Linked DNA regions of Homo sapiens. The protein of the gene in region 4 interacts with the protein of the main gene of each other region in a pairwise test. Each region holds a gene or a part of one and is shown on either strand. Other genes may lie near its edges. The genes, in order: QTGAL, SCN2A, MDH1, MPP3 and HSH2D.

The links.
Region 1: the proteins of MPP3 (region 4) and QTGAL interact in a two-hybrid assay, tested with the Homo sapiens proteins (one large-scale study listed by IntAct).
Region 2: the proteins of MPP3 (region 4) and SCN2A interact in a two-hybrid assay, tested with the Homo sapiens proteins (one large-scale study listed by IntAct).
Region 3: the proteins of MPP3 (region 4) and MDH1 interact in a two-hybrid assay, tested with the Homo sapiens proteins (one large-scale study listed by BioGRID and IntAct).
Region 5: the proteins of MPP3 (region 4) and HSH2D interact in a two-hybrid assay, tested with the Homo sapiens proteins (one large-scale study listed by BioGRID and IntAct).

What each region holds. Positions count from the first base shown.
Region 1 is NC_000017.11:82,950,499-82,954,447, reverse strand, and holds part of QTGAL (queuosine-tRNA galactosyltransferase), read left to right. Parts: intron 1-3,949.
Region 2 is NC_000002.12:165,245,691-165,249,639, forward strand, and holds part of SCN2A (sodium channel protein type 2 subunit alpha), read left to right. Parts: intron 1-3,949. UniProt on the Homo sapiens protein: Mediates the voltage-dependent sodium ion permeability of excitable membranes.
Region 3 is NC_000002.12:63,591,571-63,595,519, forward strand, and holds part of MDH1 (malate dehydrogenase, cytoplasmic), read left to right. Parts: intron 1-2,917; coding exon 2,918-3,016; intron 3,017-3,852; coding exon 3,853-3,949. UniProt on the Homo sapiens protein: Catalyzes the reduction of aromatic alpha-keto acids in the presence of NADH. Plays essential roles in the malate-aspartate shuttle and the tricarboxylic acid cycle, important in mitochondrial NADH supply for oxidative phosphorylation.
Region 4 is NC_000017.11:43,826,321-43,830,269, reverse strand, and holds part of MPP3 (MAGUK p55 subfamily member 3), read left to right. Parts: intron 1-138; coding exon of another isoform or gene 139-162; coding exon 163-243; intron 244-478; coding exon 479-616; intron 617-2,437; coding exon 2,438-2,519; intron 2,520-3,949. UniProt on the Homo sapiens protein: Participates in cell spreading through the phosphoinositide-3-kinase (PI3K) pathway by connecting CADM1 to DLG1 and the regulatory subunit of phosphoinositide-3-kinase (PI3K). Stabilizes HTR2C at the plasma membrane and prevents its desensitization.
Region 5 is NC_000019.10:16,146,442-16,150,390, forward strand, and holds part of HSH2D (hematopoietic SH2 domain-containing protein), read left to right. Parts: intron 1-2,282; 5' UTR 2,283-2,309; coding exon 2,310-2,434; intron 2,435-3,949. UniProt on the Homo sapiens protein: May be a modulator of the apoptotic response through its ability to affect mitochondrial stability. Adapter protein involved in tyrosine kinase and CD28 signaling. Seems to affect CD28-mediated activation of the RE/AP element of the interleukin-2 promoter.

The DNA.
Region 1 (3,949 bases), about 39 Mb from region 4:
GGTCCTTCACATCCCCTATAAGTTGTATTCCTAGGTATTTTATTTTCTTTGTAGCAATTGTGAGAGTTCACTCATGGTTTCAGTCTCTGCTTGTCTATTATTGGTGTATAGGAATGCTCGTGATTTTTGCACATCGATTTTGTATCCTGAGACTTTGCTGAAGTTGCTTATCAGCTTAAGGAGTTTTTGGGCTGAGACAATGGGGTTTTCTAAATATACAATCATGTCATCTGCAAACAGAGACAATTTGACTTCCTCTCTTCATATCTGAATACTCTTTATTTCTTTCTCTTGCCTGATTGCCCTGGCCAGAACTTCCAATACTATGTTGAATAGGAGTGGTGAGAGGCCATCCTTGTCTTGTGCCAGTTTTCAAAGGGAATGCTTCTAGCTTTTGCCCATTCAGTATGATACTGGCTATGGGTTTGTCATAAATAGCTATTATTTTGAGATACGTTCCATCAATACCTAGTGTATTGGGAGTTTTTAGCACTAAGGGTGTTGAATTTTATTGAAGGCCTTTTCTGCATCTGTTGAGATAATCATGTGGTCTTCGTCTTTGGTTCTGTTTATGTGATGGATTATGTTTATTGATTTGCGTATATTGAACCAGCCTTGCATCCCAGGGATGAAGCTGACTTGATCATGGTGGATAAGCTTTTTGATGTGCTGCTGGATTCAGTTTGCCAGTATTTTATTGATGATTTTCACATCAGTGTTCATCAGGGGTATTGGCCTGAAATTTTTTTTGTTGTGTCTCTGCCAGGTTTTGGAATCAGGATGATGCTGGCCTCATGAGTTAGTAGTCCCTTTTTTTCTATTGTTTGGAAGTTTCAGAATGAATGGTACCAGCTCCTCTTTGTACCTCTGGTAGAATTCGGCTGTGAATCCATCTGGTCCTGAGCTTTTCTTGGTTGGTAGGGTATTAATTACTGCCTCAATTTCAGAACTTGTTATTGGTCTTTTCAGGGATTCGACTTCTTCCTGGTTTAGTCTTGGGAGGGTGTATGTGTCCAGGAATTTATCCATTTCGTCTAGATTTTCTAGTTTATTTGCATAGAGGTGTTTATAGTATTCTCTGATGGTAGCTTGTATCTCTGTGGGATCAGTGGTGACAGCCCCTTTATCTTTTTTTATTGTGTCTACTTGATTCTTCTTTTCTTTGCCTGGCTAGTGGTCTATTTTGTTAATCTTTTCAAAAAACCAGTCATTGATTTTTTTGAAGGGATTTTTGTGTCTCTATCTCCTTCAGTTCTGCTCTGATCTTGCTTGTCTTTTGCTAGCTTTTGAATTTGTTTGCTCTTGCTTCTCTAGTTCTTTTAATTGTGATGTCAGGGTGTCGATTTTAGATCTTTCCTGCTTTCTGATGTGGGCATTTAGCACTATAAATTTCCCTCTTAACACTGCTTTAGCTGTGTCCCAGGGATTCTGGTACGTTGTCTCTCTGTTCTCATTGGTTTCAAAGAACTTCGTTATTTCTGCCTTAATTTTGTTATTTACCCAGTAGTCATTCAGGAGCAGGTTGTTCAGTTTCCATGTAGTTCTGCGATTTTGGGTTTCTTAATCCTGAGTTCTAATTCGATTGCACTGTGTTCTGAAAGACTGTTAGGATTTCTGTTCTTTTGCATTTGCTGAGGAGTGTTTCACTTCCAATTATGTGGTTAATTTTAGAGTAAGTGCTGTGTGGTGCTGAGAAGAATGTATATTCTGTTGATTTAGGGTGGAGAGTTCTGTAGATGTCTATTAGGTCCGCTTGGTCCAGAGCTGCGTTCAAGTCCTGAATATCCTTGTTAATTTTCTGTCTCAAATATTGACAGTGGGGTGTTAAAGTCTCCCATTATTATTGTGTGGTTGCCTAAGTCTCTCTGTAGGTCTCTAAGAACTTGTTTTATGAATCTGGGTGCTCCTGTATTAGGTGTGTGTATATTTAGGATAGTTAGCTCTTCTTGTTGCATTGATCCCTTTACCATTAGGTAATGCCCTTTTTTGTCTTTTTTAATCTTCATTGGTTTAAAGTCTGTTTTATCAGAGACTAGGATTGCAACCCCTGCTTTTTTTGCTTTGCATTTTCTTGGTAAATAACCACGGGTGAGTGGTTGATAGAGTGAGCCAGGCCCCAAGCGGTACTGTTGGGGGGTTGTGGGGGACACACAGACATGGGCACCTGTGACAGCTAGAAGCACGCCACACCAGGGCGGGTCACGGTTCCTGCCCCGCAGAAGCCGTGAGGCCAGCGTGTGTTGGTCTACACTGCCCGGCCTGTGATGAGCTGTCACACAACTAATCCAAGTCAAGTCCAGGCAGAACAACGTGAGCAGAGCCTCTTGGGCACAGCTTTCTGGCAACTACTGGCGCACCTCATTTTATTGCACTTCATTGTGCATTTTATAAATTACAGGCGTGTGGCAGCCCCACGAGAGCAACCCCATCAGTGCCCCTCTTCCAGCAGCACGCCCACTCCACGTCTCCACGTCTCCCCATCTCCACGTGTTAATTCTCGCAATATGTCAAACTGTTACTGTATGTGTTACGGTGACCTGTGGTGTCACTACTATCTCGGGGCGCCCATATGAATCAGTGAACTTGATTGATAAAATGCGAATGTTCTGACAGCAGCTGTCGCCTCCCCGCTCCCCCCCACCCCACCCCTCCTCAGGCCTCCCTATTCCCTGAGGCACAACATTGAAATTAGGTTAACTAATAACCCCACAGTGGACTCTAAGTGTTCAAGTGAAAGGAAGAGTCGCACGTCTCTCGCTTTAAATCAAAAGCTAGAAATGTTTAAGCTTAGTGAGGAAGGCATGTCGAAAGCCACGACTGGCAGGAGAGGCCCAGCTTTCAGCCTAACGGTTAGCCAAGTTGTGAATGCAAAGGAAAAGTTATTGAAGGAAATTAAAAGTGGTCCTCCAGTGAACACACAAATGATAGTGCGGATAGGGAGAAAGTGTTAGTGGTCTGACAGATCAAACCAGCCACAACATTCCCTTAAGCCAAAGCCTAATACAGAGCGAGGTCCCAACTCTCTTCAATTCTGTGAAGGCTGAATGATGTGAGGAAGCTGTGAACATAAGTTTGAAGCTAGCAGAGGTTGGCCCACAAGGCTTAAGGAAAGAAGCCGTCTCCGTAATATGAGTGTGAGGTGAGGCAGCAGGCTCTCCAGAAGATCATGCTACGGTCACAATGGAGGTGGCCGCACTCAACCACAGATCTTCAGTGTAGAGGAAGCAACCTTGAACTGGAAGAAGACACCATGCAGGCCTTTCATAGGTAGGGAGAAGTCAATGCCTGGCTTCAGAGCTTCAAAAGACAGTCTGACTCTTTGCCGTGACTTTAAAACCCATCTATGCCTAGTGTTCCATTATTGGAACGCTAAGCATGTGCAAGTTTATATTCTGCTTAAGGTCACTGCCAAGATCTGATTGCAAAAATTCGAAAAATTGCAACCTCAGCCATAAATGGGTTAAGTTGAAGGCAGTGGTCGCCATTCTGAGAATCCTAGGATTCTTAGGAATGAGGCTAAATCTGCTCTGCCTGTGGCTCTAGAAATGGAACGGCAAGGCCCAGGTGGCAGCACATCTGTGCACAGCACGGTTGATGGAATAGTGTAAGCCCACCGTTAGGCCCAGTGCTCAGAAAAGGAGATTCCTTTCAAAATACGACTGCTCATTGACGGTGCACCTGGTCACCCAGGAGCTCTGAGGCTGATGTACGAGGGGTTCGTGTTTTTGTGCTGACACAGCATCCGTTCTGCAGACCGTGGGTCCAGGAGTCATTCCAACTTTCCAGTCTTATTGGAGAAAGACGTTTTCTAAGGCCGTAGCCGCCAAAGATAGTGATTGCTCTGATGGATCTGAGCAAAGTAATGAAAACCTTTGAATAACCGTTGTCCAAGTTACCGGGGACATTTAGGTGAGTAAACGGGAGGCTCCGAGAAGCAGTTATAAAATGC
Region 2 (3,949 bases), on a different chromosome or scaffold from region 4:
TAAACCAGGATTCAGTTTGTTAATAATTTCTCCACAACGACAGGTATAAATCAAGATGGTTCCAGGTAAACTGGGATGCACAGTCACTCCACTTCTAAGGGTCAAGAAACTTCTACATTTAATCAGTCTATTCAATTAAATTGTTCATGATTTTGTTGCCTAAGTGTTAGAAAGTTAAAATGTGAAATGACCTATCAATTAGACAAAGGGCATTCAGCTAAGCTGCTCCAATTACTGGCCTTGATAAATCCATCAACCGAAATCTCTAATGATTCTTGTTGAATCCTTAGTTATATCACCAGGAATGATGTCACTCCAATAATGTTAAGCCTGACTTCCCAGGGAATTCAACTGTGTGCAAAAAAAAACTGTTAGTAAATTATGCTGTTATTACAAACCTAGACTCACAGCATCATAAATCTATTCAAATATAAAAGCAAAAGCAGGATAAAATATGGATTCAAATTATTTCCACATTTGGGTATGCATCTTTTAAGGAGTTTTCATGAATGTGTAATCCTTAGAAGATAGGAATTTAGCTCCAAGAACACTGGAATTTTCTCCACTGGCACTTTATACCCAAATCTTGGTAATGTCAATATGCATATGTATGGCCTCTTAACAGACTATCCTGTAAAGTAGTTAAATTATTTTCCTCCAATGATCATGTTTTTTTTACCCTTCTTCAGACATCCACTCCCATGGTTTTATCTTGAAACTCTTCATGGCCAGTAACTGTGGCCTGCCCATAATCCTTCCTTCATACATCCTACACCACCTTTCTAGCGCATTTCATCTACAACTCCAATTCATTCCTTTAATCCCACCAGGCCTCTAAATCACTGATCTCGTCATACTTTGATTATCTCTCACTAAATGTCCTCTTTCCTTTCATTAGATAAATTCCACAGTTATTCATAAAAGTCACTCCTTGTATATACATACATACCTCACAAACTCCTCCGCTCAGTGTTTTTTTGTTTGGTTGGTTTTTTGGTAACTGTCTGGCTAAATCTTCATCCTCATATTCAGTTCCCACCTTACTTCCTGCCTGCACTTTTGCAGCTGGACGCATGCAAAAGTGGGTCCTTCATGATGCCCAGCAATCATGCCACATGTCCCTAGATTGATGCCCAGCAACCATGCCACATGTCCCTGGATCACTTACTCTCCCAGGTTCTTGTACTTAGATTTCATACCCTTTCTTTTCTCCTCAAACCACCAATACCTCCTACCTTGACCTCACTCTCAGTTGACAACTTTGTTTCCTAAATCAGTGAGAAAATTGAAACAATCAGGAGAGATTTTTCCCCACAGGTTTCTATCACTGCATGTGCCTTCCTACCAGGTTCTGCACCCACATAACCTGACCTCCCACCCATTACCTTAAATCAACTATCCCTGTTTCTATCTAAAATCATTCCTGCATCTGTGCACTAGATCCTATTCTTTCTTACTTACACAAGGGCATCTCTAGAGCATTTTATTTCTCTGTCTCTCCTGCATTAGTAATTTTAGCTCTTTATTATATTTGCATACAAGCATTTTATTATTGCTCTTGTATTTGAATTTTTTTACTTCCTTCAACTATCTTTTTTTTATTTTTTGTTGTCTTTGCAATAATACTTAATGAAAGTGTTTGCTGTATTCTCTGTATCTATGACTCTCTTTCTATTCTCTTTTAAATTTACGTTAGTCAAGTTTTTACTCTTACCATTTCACCAAATCAGCTCCTGATAGAAATCTGATGACCACCCTATTGCCAAATTCATCAGTCCATCCTCAGCTTTCATCTTACTTGACCATCCAGCAATATTGGAGACAGTTCATTGCTGTCTCCCCCTTGATACACTGCCTTCCGTTGGATTTCAGGATAGCACACAATTTTGACTCTTCTCTTAGCTTATTGTTCACTCCTTCACAGTCACTTTACTCTTTACTCTGCCTTCCCAGACTTCATTATTTGGGTGTCCCTGATTCTGTCCCTGATTTTCTTTTCTTCTTTATCTACTTTCTTTTGATCCCATTGAGTTTTATGGCGTTAAATGCCATATAAATCATGATGACATCCAAATATTTACCTCCAGTTTTCTGCCAAACTGAACTTGTGTGTCTAACTGCTTATTTGGCTTGGATATCTAGAAGACACTGAAAAGTTAACATCCCTAAACTAAATTTCGGATAGTTCTTCCCAACCAACCTGCTCCAATCCTCGCTTTCCCCACCTTACTTTTTTCAGGAGATAACTCTAGTTTTCCTCATCCTCAGGCTAACAACTCTAGTATCATCCTTGATTATTCTTTTTCTCTTATATCTGACATTCAGTCCATGAGAAATTCCTGTTGATTTCAACTTCAGAATATACCCAGGATCTATGTGCTGCCACCTTCACACTGCTACCCTGCTCAAGCCACCATCAAGTTTCTCATGGATTTCTGCCTTAATTTCCTAATTGGACTTTATTCTTCTACTTCTCCTTACAATCTATTCTCAATACGGCAAGACAGAAGTAAGATTACGCCACATCCCTGCTCAAAATTCTGCAAGTGATATCCAGTTTTCTCAGGGTAAAAGGCACCTGACAATTTCCAAAAAGTCTCTATTTAGCCTGGTCTCCATCCCATTACAGTATTTCTCTGAATTTGTCTCCAGTTTTTCTTTCCCTCATTCACTTTCACTATTTCTTGAATATTGCAGGAACACTTCAATCCTTTGGGCTGTTTCCTCTGCCTAGAAACCTTTTGCCTCAGGCACTTGCATGACTAACCTCCTCACCTGTTTAAAATCTGAGCTCAAATGTCGTTTCTAAATAATACCTACTCTTAACTATCCCATTTAAAAATCTCAGCCCCCTTCCTCTAACTTCATTCTTATCGTCTCCCACATTCTTCTATACTTTCTTTTCTTTGTTATCATTTGCTTTGCTTTGTTCTTTTTTTCCTTTTCTTTCCTTTCTTTTATTTCCTTCCCTTCTAACACATCACATTATAGCATACTGTATACATTGCATTTCTCTTGTTGGTAATTTAAGCCCCAAATGGGCAGAGATTATCATCTGTTTGGTGCACTGATGTTTCACAAATGCTTAGAACACTTCCTGATCTATAGAAGAGACTAAAAATGTTTGTAGAATAAAATAATGAATCTTAGAAACTTAAATTTATTCCTTTAAGCATACTAAGGGGCACCATGCTTTCTCTTTCACTTTATTGGGCTGATTCACATTTACAAATGACCCAGTGCAATCTGCCTGATTTTTCATTCAGTATTTACACCAATAGAAATAAAATGCATATTAGTGTTATAAAATCAAACCTTAAATGACAGTAAATGTATCATTAATAGTTACTGAAGACCTTTTCCTGATATATATGACATTTAATGTTTTTCTCTTGTGACTTCATTGTTCTTTGTTTGCTTGTTCATCTTCTAGATTGTGAGCTCCTCAAAGTCAGGAACTTGGTCATCATATCTGTCTCCCAAATACCACACTCAATGTCTGGCACATAAGAAGTTTTACAAATATGCTGTTTTAGTCATAGGATGAGCATACACTTAAAATTTAATACTGGTCCTGCATATGCTGTGTCCTGAGCTTTCGCTATGTAGGTTGCTTTAATTCTTACAACCGTGTGGAGCAAAGCACTGGTCTCATTTTACAGATGTGATAAAGCTAGTTATTTTGTCCAGGACTTAATCATTGCAGTATTCTCACTGTCTAATCTCTAGTGACCATATCACAGGAAGTTAATTATGCTCTTTTTTTAAAGATAAATTGAAATAATGCTAACAATGCCAGATTTCTTGGAAATGTTTTGTTTTTAGTTTCAGTTAGAAGCACGCCTTAGCTTAGTGAATAAGGGACAATGAATGTTATTTATTTTCCTGCTCAATTCAGTTGGGAAAATTGACCTCATCGTTTTGTGTTTTCAATCCCTTAAGTGTAATA
Region 3 (3,949 bases), on a different chromosome or scaffold from region 4:
TAGATAGTGATCTTCACTCTCTTCAGCCCCCCTTTTCTTATCCTAGTTTGCTGTTCATTGAAGTAGTATCTGTTCATACTTTATACCCTAACCTTCCTTCATTCAACAAATACTTTTTGTGGAAATGCAAATCCATATCAAAGACAGACTGTTCTCAAGAGCGCTTCATGGCCTAATACAGAGCAACAGAAATGTAAATAGAAAACCACAGGCTATTAAAGTCTTTAGAGGAAAATTCTGTGATGATATTTATAAATACTCACTACGTACTGTTCTTAGTGCTTTGTGTGTTAACTCTTTTAATCCTTAAAACTACTCTGTTTGTTAGGTAATTGCTATTATTATCTCCATTTTACTATGGGGAAATAATACAGAAAGGTTAAGTAACTTGTCCTAGAGCATGCAGTTAATGAGTTGTGGAGCCAGGACTTGAACACAGAAAGTCTGGCTCCAGAGTCCATCTCTTTAATTACTACTCTCTACTGCTTCTCTAGCCCCCTGTTTTAGAAAATTGGTGTATCCTTTTTGTTTCCTTCACGTGATTCACCAATGGATTCCCTGGCCTAAAATAGTACCAAGTACATGATAGGAACTTAATGATGTTTTGTTTAATGAATGAATTAAATGAGAAAACAGTTCATCAGTGGATTTATAAGGTAATATCATTAGTACTAATGACAATTTTGTTAGCTATAGTTGGAACTATTGTGGTCACTAAGTTTCCAGTTTTCTCAATACATAATATATATGAATAAAATACCTTTTGTTTTCATAGTATATATGAAAAAGTTTTTGTTTGAGACAGGATCTCACTCTGTCACCAAGGCTGAAGTGCACTCACACAGTAATGGCTCACTGTAGCCTTAACTTCCAAGGCTCAAGTGATTCTCCTACCTCAGCCTCCTGAGTGGCTGGAACTACAGCATCTGCCACCACACCCAGCTAAATTGTTTTTTTAAGAGACAGGGTTTCACTATGTAGCCCAGGCTGGTCTCGAACTCCTGGGCTCAAGTGATCCACCCGCCTTGTCCCCCCGCGCAATGCGCTGGGATTGTAGGTGTGAGCCACTGCACTCAGCCTGAAATAGCTTAAATAAATAAAATATCTTAAAAAATTTTTTAAAGCACGTTACATATGTTTTCAAACAGTTCTTATACATTTCCATCTTTTTGATAGTTTTACAGGACCCAGCTATTCCTTCAAGCAAATACCAGAGTTCCAACTACAGGACAGGTGTTGTTCTAGGCAATTGAGATACAGCAGTAAATAAAATAGACAAAGTTCCTGTCCTTAAGGATCTCGTATTCTAAAGGGAAAGGGAGTAATAATTTCTTCCTGTATTCCCTTTTCCTCACCTACTCTACTTCAAGGAAAGAAGGGAAAATGACAGAATGAAAAACGTGTAGGCCATTAAAGATTTTTCTATAAATAGTAATAAATTAGAAAAAAAAAATTGTGTAGTATGTAGTTGGCTATGATCAAATTCATTTCTCTACACCAGTTGACACTTTTTGTTTTTTTTGTTTGTTGTTTTTTGTTTTTTTTTTGAGAAGGAGTTTCGCTCTTGTTGCCCAGGCTGGAATACAATGGCACGATCTCCACTCACTCAACCTCTGCCTCCCGGGTTCAAGTGATTCACCTGCCTCAGCCTTCCAAATAGCTGGGAGATGCCTGCCACCACACCCAGCTAATTCTGTATTTTTAGTAGAGACGGGGTTTCTCCATATTGGTCAGGCTGGTCTCAAACTCCCAACCTCAGGTGATCCGCCTGCCTCAGCCTCCCAAAGTGCTGAGATTACAGGCATGAGCCACCATCCCTGGCCTGACACTTCTTTTTTGAAATTTTTTTTTTTCTTTGACTTCTATGAGTGAGTACCAAATTGCTGAGTGCTGCTAACTTTCAGAGCTTAGTGTCAGAAGCTTGAAAGAAGCCTTCGAGGCTATCCATCCTTGTTTCGTCTCAGAGACGTGACTCTCATCTGGAAGAAGGAACTTTAAGTAAAAAGAAACCAAACACTTCTGGGCTTAGTCACATCAGTGGACCATTTCTCCATGCAGGTAGGGGTAAAGGTGACAGTGGAAGTACATTTACCCAGCATTATCGGGGAAAGGAATGGTTCACCTTAACTGAATTTTTCTGTCTAACTAAACCTACCCATTACGTTTCTAAACATTATTGTTTTGTTCTTTTTAATAGATATATTTCTATCTTTTAAAATTCTGTCAGCTTAGTCTTTTTTTACTCAGAGTCATCACTTTGAATATCAGTTATCTTTGTTTCTATGTCTGTATTTTGTTCAGGAACTGTTGAAATCTCTGTTTGTATGTCTTCCCTCCTTGCTTTTAAAAATAATTTTCCCTTGGAATCAGGTTGTCAGCTGTCTGTCACTACATGTTGCTGTTGTTTCTCCCGAAATAAAAAATCTTGTTTTTCCTCCTCCAGACAAAGTTGAAGCACGATTAATTGTCTTATTTAAATGTTTTGGCTCAATGTAAATGGAAAGTTTTAGCCTCTTTCACTCTTCTTCTTGGTATGAAGATTCTATTGAGCAGATGGGAGTGGGGGCTTTGCATAATAAGGATTTGTGTGGCTCTAGTGGCTGCCAGGGTTTGGATCACCACATACTGAACACATCAACATTGTTGAGCCTATTTTAGTGGTAAAATATCCCAAAAAAGGTGGATAAGATTATGTAAGTAAATCCAGGATAACACTTTTAGCTCCCTACATGGTGAGAGTTAAATAACACCACGTAAATATGCAGCACATTCATTTTCTACTGAGCCAGATGCAAAAGGACTTTAAAATTTTACATTCACTTTTAAAGTATGTGGATTTCTTACTATAGATTAAAATCCTGGATATTTTTAAGGTACAGTAGTACTTAAAGATGTTAATGGGTCTTTTTCATTACAGTCTGAACCAATCAGAGTCCTTGTGACTGGAGCAGCTGGTCAAATTGCATATTCACTGCTGTACAGTATTGGAAATGGATCTGTCTTTGGTAAAGATCAGGTAGGAACAGGTGTCTATAAATCTTAAGTTATTAGAGTAAGAATATGGTTAATAAAAATCTGTATTTAGTTGTACACAAATTGTTAAACAGTGAAGGAATATGTAATCCCAGTAAATGTAATAGGCACATTGCTATAAATGGAAGCTACTAAGGTATTTATATGTACGCCTCCAGGCACTGAAAACACTTTGCAAATGAGAACTCTTCCATATATTGTACTCAGTTGACTTGGTGCAACCAGCAGGTGTCAGTCAATGGGAGATATCACTAATGACAGTAACTTACAGTCATGTGGGAGAGAGTTACTCAGTAAGCACTCCCTTGTTCATAAATGGCCTTTGGAACCAAAAGAGTAAGGAAATCTGCTTCCCCGCTGAAGCAGGCACTCCGACTTCCAGCAAGCCTGATTAATATACACTAAAATCCTTTTCTAAGGTATTCATTTATTCAGTTTCTTGACCCATGGATACTGAATTATTCTTTCATGTCAGATACTGTACTTAGCTTTCCATGAACTGAAATCAAATATACAGCTATTAACAATAAGAGCAAGCTATAGCATGTCACTCAGTTTAATGTTTTTTTCATATACTGTTAAAATTGAGTAGTGGTGATTCCTCTCACTGTGTCTGTTAGCAAACCAATGCTGGTTTTATAGCATCCTTCTTTCTGAAAGTGGCATAGTGCTAGATACCTGACCTCCTAAAATAATCATCATGACTAATTAATGGGAATTACATGCATGTACATACCAAATAAAAACTATGTGAAAAGACTTTCTTGTGTCTAAATGAAATAGCCTACACTAACAGATGCTGTCCTTGCTATTTGGTAGCCTATAATTCTTGTGCTGTTGGATATCACCCCCATGATGGGTGTCCTGGACGGTGTCCTAATGGAACTGCAAGACTGTGCCCTTCCCCTCCTGAAAG
Region 4 (3,949 bases):
CCCCTGGTGTGATGTTCCCAGGATCATCGTCGTCGGGTGGTTGAGGGTCTGGTGTGCCCCTGGGGGCTGCAGCTGGGTGGGCCCTTCCAAAGAGGAAGGACCCAGCAGATATGGGGCAGGGGCACCTCTAGCCATCAGTGGCGCCTGTCTCATTCTCTGCAGGTGATGGAGGAGTTGCAGGCCGCCTCCGTGCACAGTGATGAGAGGGAGCTGCTCCAGCTGCTGTCCACCCCGCACCTGAGGGTAGTCACACAGAGCCCCTGCCCAGCCATGCCTCTGGGTCTCCTGGGATGGGGGCGGAGGGAGCTCTCCTAATGAGGCTGAGGAGTGGAGACTGAGGGAGCGATCCTCAGCACTAGTGTCTGGGCAGTTGTCTCTCTGGCATGGCGTCTGCCACCCTCCATACCACCGGCCAGCTGCGGCCTGCTGACCCTGTGAGCGGCGGGCCAGCCTTCCTTTTCTCTGGCTTTCCCGGCAGGCTGTGCTCATGGTACATGACACGGTTGCCCAGAAGAATTTTGACCCCGTTCTCCCGCCTCTGCCTGACAATATCGATGAGGATTTTGATGAGGAATCGGTGAAGATCGTCCGCTTGGTGAAGAACAAGGAACCCCTGGTAGGTGCTGCTGCCTGCCCCTCTCTAACCCACTCTTCCCCTGCCTCTCACCCCCACCCAGAACACTGGACAAGATCCTCCCCGAAGTCTTCAGAGTGAGTGACGGCAGCTTTGCCTGCGCTGCTGCTCATCCCTGTGGTGCCTCTGTGTGCAGGGCACCCCTTTCTCTAGGTGGATACAGCCCCTCTCAACTGTGGCCAACACCCTTTGTGTAGTTAATAACCTGCACAATTGTACAGGGTGACCCTGATCATGCTTTAAGCCAGAAATGGACAAACTACAGCCCAAGGGCCAAAACCAGCCCACAGCTTATTTTTTAAAATAAAGCTTTTTTGGAGCACAACCAGGCCCATTCACTTACAGATTGGCTGTGGCTGCCTTTATAGTGCGATGGCAGAGTTGAGTCGTTGTGACAGAGACTGTGTGGCTGGCCTCAAATATTTACATGTGGCCCCTTATAGAAAACGTGTGACAATGCCTGCTCTGAATGTTGAGGAAGCACAGGGCATTCCTCTCCCCAGCAGACAGACTGCTATCACTTTGGTCCTGGTTCAGCATTGATTTACCGAGCAAAGGGACAGCGTTGTTTATGAGATGCTCAGAAGTGGTGGAAGCCCAGAGAATTGAGATTGGCTCCAGAGGATCCCACAGCTGGCATTCTCTATTTCCAACTTTCCCCAAATGACCTCCGACGAGCCTCTTCTGCAAACAGACGAGGATCTCTCCTCTGCCTCTGTTTCCTCACTTGTAAAATGGAGTGGCCATCCATTGATTTAGCAAACACATTGTGAGCCCTCCTATCCAGGCTCTGTATTGGGTGCTGGCGGTTCAGAGCTGAATAAATGATGGATAGCGATGCTGGAAAGTTCTCAGTTCTGGGGGGCTAGAAGTCCTGAGGTTCTTAGCTGATGGCCTCTCTTTCTAGCAATAATTATCTTACGTACTTCAAATAGATGGCACAGATGATGTTAACAATAAGTGTGCAAATGTGTTTGCAGTTACAGCCACTAATAAGTGGTTAACATATGTTGAGTGCTTACTGTGTACTAAGTGCCTTGAGTGGAATCCTTGCAACAACACTGTGAGTTAAATGCTGTCCCACATCTCACAGGAAACAGGCTTGGAGAGGATAAGAGATTTCCTTGTTAAGTCCACATGCTTTTTGTAAACGGCAGAACTGTGTTCACACCCAAGGCTGTCCAGCCCTAGAGCTTAGCTCTTAAGCTTTCTGCCGTCCTGCTGCAGTCCGGCCTGTGTGGTGCAGGAAATCGAGGGCTCGTTAGTGCCTTTCTCATCCTAAGTGTCATCTCTGCTGTGCTTCATGGGCCAAGTCCTGGTCCCGAAGCCCTGGCTGGGGTGCATAATTGGTTTCCCTCAGCAGCAGCAGAAGGCCCGGTAACCCTGTGATTGGGTAGAGGCAGGGTGAGAATTAGCTGGCACGTGTCATCCTCATTATTAAATGTCTTTGCAAGTGGTAGGAACTGTGATATGAGAGAGATGTGATGGAGAACTTACTGGATTTGGCATCACAAAAAGCTTTCCCCTTTACCAGCTGGGTGACCTTGAGGATATTTAACTTCTCTGAGCCCCAGTCCCTCATCTAAAATGTTGCAGCATTATTGTGCCTTGTAAACTGTACAGTGCAGGGCTATATTAATGGGGGATGTTGGTTTTGTTTTGTCTTCAGCATTGGGAAGGTCCCCACTGATCTCTCTGGACTGTCAGAGGGAGGGACTGGGGAGGCTGTGTTGGGTCCAGAGAGTAGGGGTCTGAGGTTTGGAGCTGCTGCTTAAGAACCTGTCTCTTCTGTCTCGGGTTCAGGGTGCCACCATCCGGCGGGACGAGCACTCAGGGGCTGTTGTGGTGGCCAGGATCATGCGAGGAGGCGCAGCAGACAGGAGCGGTGAGTGGCGGCAGTGCAAAGCTGGCCCAGCCCCGATCATGGCCATTGTTCCAGAGCCCTCCACCTTTGCTAATAGGTCCCCTTACCTCCCTCCTATCAGGTCACCTGTTTGGGATTTGCTTTGCTTTCTGGGGTTGTGGCTGGAATTCTCATCTCCTTCCCAAGTCAGTAGAAATTTTAATAGAAAATATAGGCCAGCTGGGCATGGTGGTGCACACCTGTAATCCCAGCACTTTAAGAGGCCGAGGCAGGCGGATCACTTGAAGCCAGGAGTTCCAGACCAGCCTAGCCAACATGGCGAAACCCCATTTCTACTAAACACACAAACCTGGGAGGCGGAGGTTGCAGTGAGCCAAGATCATGCTGCTGCACTCCAGTCTGGGCAACAGAGTGAGACTCTGTCTCAAAAAAAAAAAAAAAAGAAAAAAAAAAAAAAGCCAGGCACAGTGGCTCACGCCTGTAATCCCAGCATTTTGGGAGGCCGAGGTGGGCGGATCACCTGAGGTCGGGAGTTCGAGACCAGCCTGACCCACACAGAGAAACCCCATCTCTACTAAAAATACAAAATTAGCCAGGCTTGGTGGCACATGCCTATAATCACAGCTACTTGGGAAGGCTGAGGCAAGAGAATCGCTTGAATCTGGGAGGTGGAGGTTGCAGTGAGCCGAGATCGCGCCATTGCGCTCCCGCCTGGGCAACAAGAGTGAAATTCCGTCTCAAAAAAAAGAAAAAAAGAAAAAGAAAATATAGGCCATGCACGGGTGGCCCACACCTGTAGTCCTAGCTGTTCGGGAGGCCCAGGCAGGAAGATTGTTTGAGCCCAGGAGTTTGAGGTTGCAGTGAGCCGTGATTACACCACTACACTCTAGAGTGGGCGACGCAGTGAGACCGTCTCAAAAAAAAAAGAAAAAAAAAAAAAATATATATATATATAAATAGTCATGGAGTACTTTGGGGTGATTGAGAAAAAGCTCATGCGTTGGTTTAGTCCAAGGACTGTGACAGTTAAGAATATAGCATGGGCTTGCGGGATTACTAACTGTGGGACAGGGTTGACACCCTTCCCCACCATCCCAGGTCTTGTCAAGCTACTATTACAAAGAGAGTGTTTGTGCCCCAGATTCGTTTGGGTAGAAAGGTTGAGAATCACCGGTGTGTGGAAGAGCTACTAAGCTGGGAGACAAACCTCCTGGTATAGGGCGATGTTACCCCCAAAGTCTGGGGGGTCATCGTTGCAGAGAATCCTAGACCAGCACTTTGCAAACATTAACGAGTCCACGAATTCCCTGAGCATCTTGTTAAAATGCAGACTGATTCAGCAGGTCTGAGCTAGGCCGAAGATTCTGCACTTTTAACCTGCCTCCAGGTGATGCTGATGCAGCCGGGCCAGTGCCCACTTTGAGTAGCATATAGGGCCCTAATATGCAGAG
Region 5 (3,949 bases), on a different chromosome or scaffold from region 4:
GAGGTGTTAGGATTGCTTGAGCCCAGGAGTTCAAAGCCAGACTGGACAACAGAGCAAGACCCTGTTTCTACAAAAAAATTTTCAAAATTAGCCAGGCATGGTACTGCATGCCTGTAGTCCCAACTACTCAGGAGGTTGAAGTGGGAGGATTGCTTGAGCCTAGGAGGTTGAGGCTGCAGTGAGCATGAGCTGTGATTGCACCATTGCACACTCCAGCCTCAGGAACAGAGGGAAACCCTGTCTCAAAAAAAAAGAAAGAAAGAAATCAGGGCAACCCTTTTTGACCACCACCGTTGGGTCAGCTGTTTATTTCGTTCACTTGCCATTTTGTCATTTCCTTATTCCTCCAGGGGCCTTGATATTTACTTAATATTTAAATACTCTACTCTTTTTTTTTTTTTTGAGATGGAGTCTCACTCTGCCCCCCAGGCTGGAGTGCAATGGCGCGATCTTGGCTCACTGCAACCTCTGCCTCCTGAGTTCTAGCAATTCTCCTGCCTCAGCCTCCTGAGTAGCTGGGATTACAGGCACCCACCACCTCATCTGGCTAATTTTTGTATTTTTAGTAGAGATGGGGTTTCACCATGTTGGCCAGGCTGGCCTCGAACTCCTGACCTCAGGTGATCCACCTGCCTCAGCCTCCCAAAGTGCTGGGATTACAGGCGTGAACCACCATGCCCAGCTCTAAATACTCTATTCTTAAATTTCAAAACATTTATTTATAAAATGAACTTTCTAGTCCTTGCAATAATGGCATAAAAGGCTGGGCACAATGGCTCACACCTGTAATGCTAGCACTTTGGGAGGCTGACACAGGTGGATTTCTTGAGTCCAGGAGTTTGAGACCAATGTGGGCAGCAAGGTGAAACCCCATCTCTACAAAAATACAAAAATTAGCCAGGCGTGGTGGCACATGCCTGTGGTCCCAGCTACTTGGGGGACTGAGGTGGGAGAATCACTTGAGGGAAGAAGGTCGAGGCTGCAGTGAGCCAAGATGGGGCCACTGCACTCCAGCCTGGGTGACAGAGTGAGACCCTGTCTCAAAAAAAAAAAAAAAGAAAAAAAACACAATGGCATAAGAAGAATAAAAGGAAAAGTCCTTGAAGGCCTTTGGGGATGAGCCAATGAATGAATGTGTAAAAACTATCAGGCACATAGTAGGTGCCCAAAAAATCACAAGCCAGTGGTTTTTTTTTTGTTTTGTTTTGTTTTGTTTTGTTTTGAGACGGAGTCTCACTCTGTTGCCCAGGCTGGAGTGCAGTGGTGCAATCTCGGCTCACTGCAGCCTCCGCCTCCTGGGGTCAAGTGATTCTCGTGCCTCAGCCTCCCAAGTAGCTGTGATTATAGGCACAGGCCGCTGTGCCCAGCTCATTTTTGTATTTTTGTAGTGACAGGGTTTCACCACGTGGCCCAGGCTGGTCTTGAACTCCTGATCTCAGGTAATCCACCTGCCTTGGCCTCCCAAAGTGCTAGGATTACAGGCGTGAGCCACCACGCCCAGCCACACAAGCCAGTTTTTTGTTGTTGTTGTTTTTGAAACATGGTCTTGCTCTGTTCCCCAGGCTGGAGTGCAGTGGCACAACCACAGCTCACTGCAGCCATATCCTCCTGAGCTCAAGGGATCCTCCCACCTCAGCCTCCTGAGTAGCTGGGACTACAGGCATGCACCACCACACCCAGCTAATTTTTAAATTTTATTTTATTGATTTATTTGCTTATTTATTTTTTGAGGAGTCTCACTCTGTCGCCCAGGCTGGAGCACAGTGGCATGATCTTGGCTCACTGCAACCTCTGCCCCCCGGGTTCAAGTGATTCTCCTGCCTCAGCCTCCGGAGTAGCTGGGATTACAAGTGCCCACCACCACACCCAGCTAATTTTTGTATTTTTAGTAGAGACAGGGTTTCATGATGTTGGCCGGGCTGGTCTCAAACTCCTGACCTCAGGTGATCTACCCACCTTGGCTTCCCAAAGTGCTGAGATTACAGGCGTGAGCCACCGCACCTGGCCAAATTTTTTAATTTTTTGTAGAGATGGGGGTCTCACTATGTTGCCCAGGCTGGTCTGGAACTCCTGGGCTCAAGCAATCCTCCCACCTTGGCCTCCCAAAGTGCTGGGATTACACATGTGAGCCGTCACACCCAGCCACAAGCCAGTTTTAAGTCCATTGCTCTGTCCACCCTGGAGGACTTCTCAAAGGAGGAGGCACCACAAGCTTCAAGAATAGAGCAAAGATAAGAGGTGCATCAAGCTTGATTCTTGTCTTCCCTCCCTTCTCTACCCAGGTGACCTTCCCTCCACCCCAGGAAGCTATGACAGAGGCCGGGAAGCTGCCCCTACCGCTACCCCCACGGCTGGACTGGTTTGTGCACACCCAGATGGGCCAGCTGGCCCAAGACGGGGTCCCCGAGTGGTTCCATGGTGCAATCTCAAGAGAGTGAGGACACACCCACACCCTCCACCCTGCCCTCCCCACCCTGTCCTTGTCTGTCCCTACCCTGGGCAGCTTTTAACTGCAGAATTCTGGACTTGGCTCAGCTCAGTGTGGCAAGAGGCTAAAATGAGCTCCAGGCTCCCAGGCTTGAATCCTGCCACCTCTTTGGGCTCACTGTGTGACCTGGGGCAAGTTACTTGCTCTCTCTGAGCCTCAGCTTTCTCTATACAAGTGGCCAACAGACCAGCACTGCCAGGGACCTGGCAGCACCCCACACCTCGCCCAGGCCAAGCATTACCAATCAACGATGGCAGCATGCAGCCTCAGAATCTTTCTCTCTTTCTTTTTGAGACAGGGTCTCACTCTGTCACCCAGGCTGGAGTGCAGTGGTGCAATCTTGGCTCACTGCAACCTCTGCCTCCCGGACTCAAGTGATTCTTCCGCCTCAACTTGCTAAGTAGCTGGGATTACAGGCACATGCCACCAAGCCTGACTAATTTTTGTGTTTATAGTAGAGATAGGGTTTCACCATGTTGGCCAGGCTGGTCTCAAACTCCTGGCCTCAAGTGATTCACCCGCCTCGGCCTCCCGAAGTGCTGGGATTACAGGCGTGAGCCACCGCACCCGGCCAGAATCTTTCTGAACACAGTACTCCAAGCAGCTGCTCTCAACCCATCAGGATACAACCAATGTGCCCTTTCTTTTTTTTTCTTTTTCTATTTTTTTTTTTTGAGACAGAGTTCCGCTCCTGTTGCCCAGGCTGGTGTGTAGTGGCGCGATCTCGGCTCACTGCAGCCTCTATCTCCTGGGTTCAAGCAATCCTCCTGCCTCATGAGTAGCTGGGACTACAGGCATGCACCACCGCACCCGGCTAATATTTGTATTTTTAGTAGAGACGAGGTTTCACCATGTTGGCCAGGCTAGTCTCAAACTCCTGACCTCAAGTGATCTGCCGGCCTCGGCCTCCCAAAGTGCTGGGATTACAGGCATGAGCCACCGTGCCTGGCCCCAATGTGCCCTTTCTACCTCAGACTGTGAGCTCTGAGGATGTGGGCCCGGCTCTAACTAAATGGAGGAAAAAATATTTATGGCCACTCTCTGCATGCAGGAAATTGAGAAAATTCTGTGAAGGCCACAGAGAGGAAGTAGTATTGGTCATGGTTTCTGAGCTCTGGGGCCTTGCTGAATAACAGAAATATAACATGAGTTGCACATTGCAATTTAAAAAAATTTTAGTAGTTATATTAAAAGAAGCAGCTGGCTGCACTGGCACTTACCTTTAATCCCAGCTACTTGGAATGCTGAGGCGGGAGGATCGCTTGAGCCCAGGAGTTCAAGGCTGGCCTGGACAACATAGTGAGACTCCATCTCTAAAAGGAATTTTAGGCTGGGTGCAGTGGCTCATGCTTGTAATCCCAGCACTTTGGGAGGCCGAGGCTGGCAGACCACCTGAGGTCAGGAGTTTGAGACCAGCCTGGACAACATGGTGAAACCTTGTGTCTACTGAAAATACAAAAT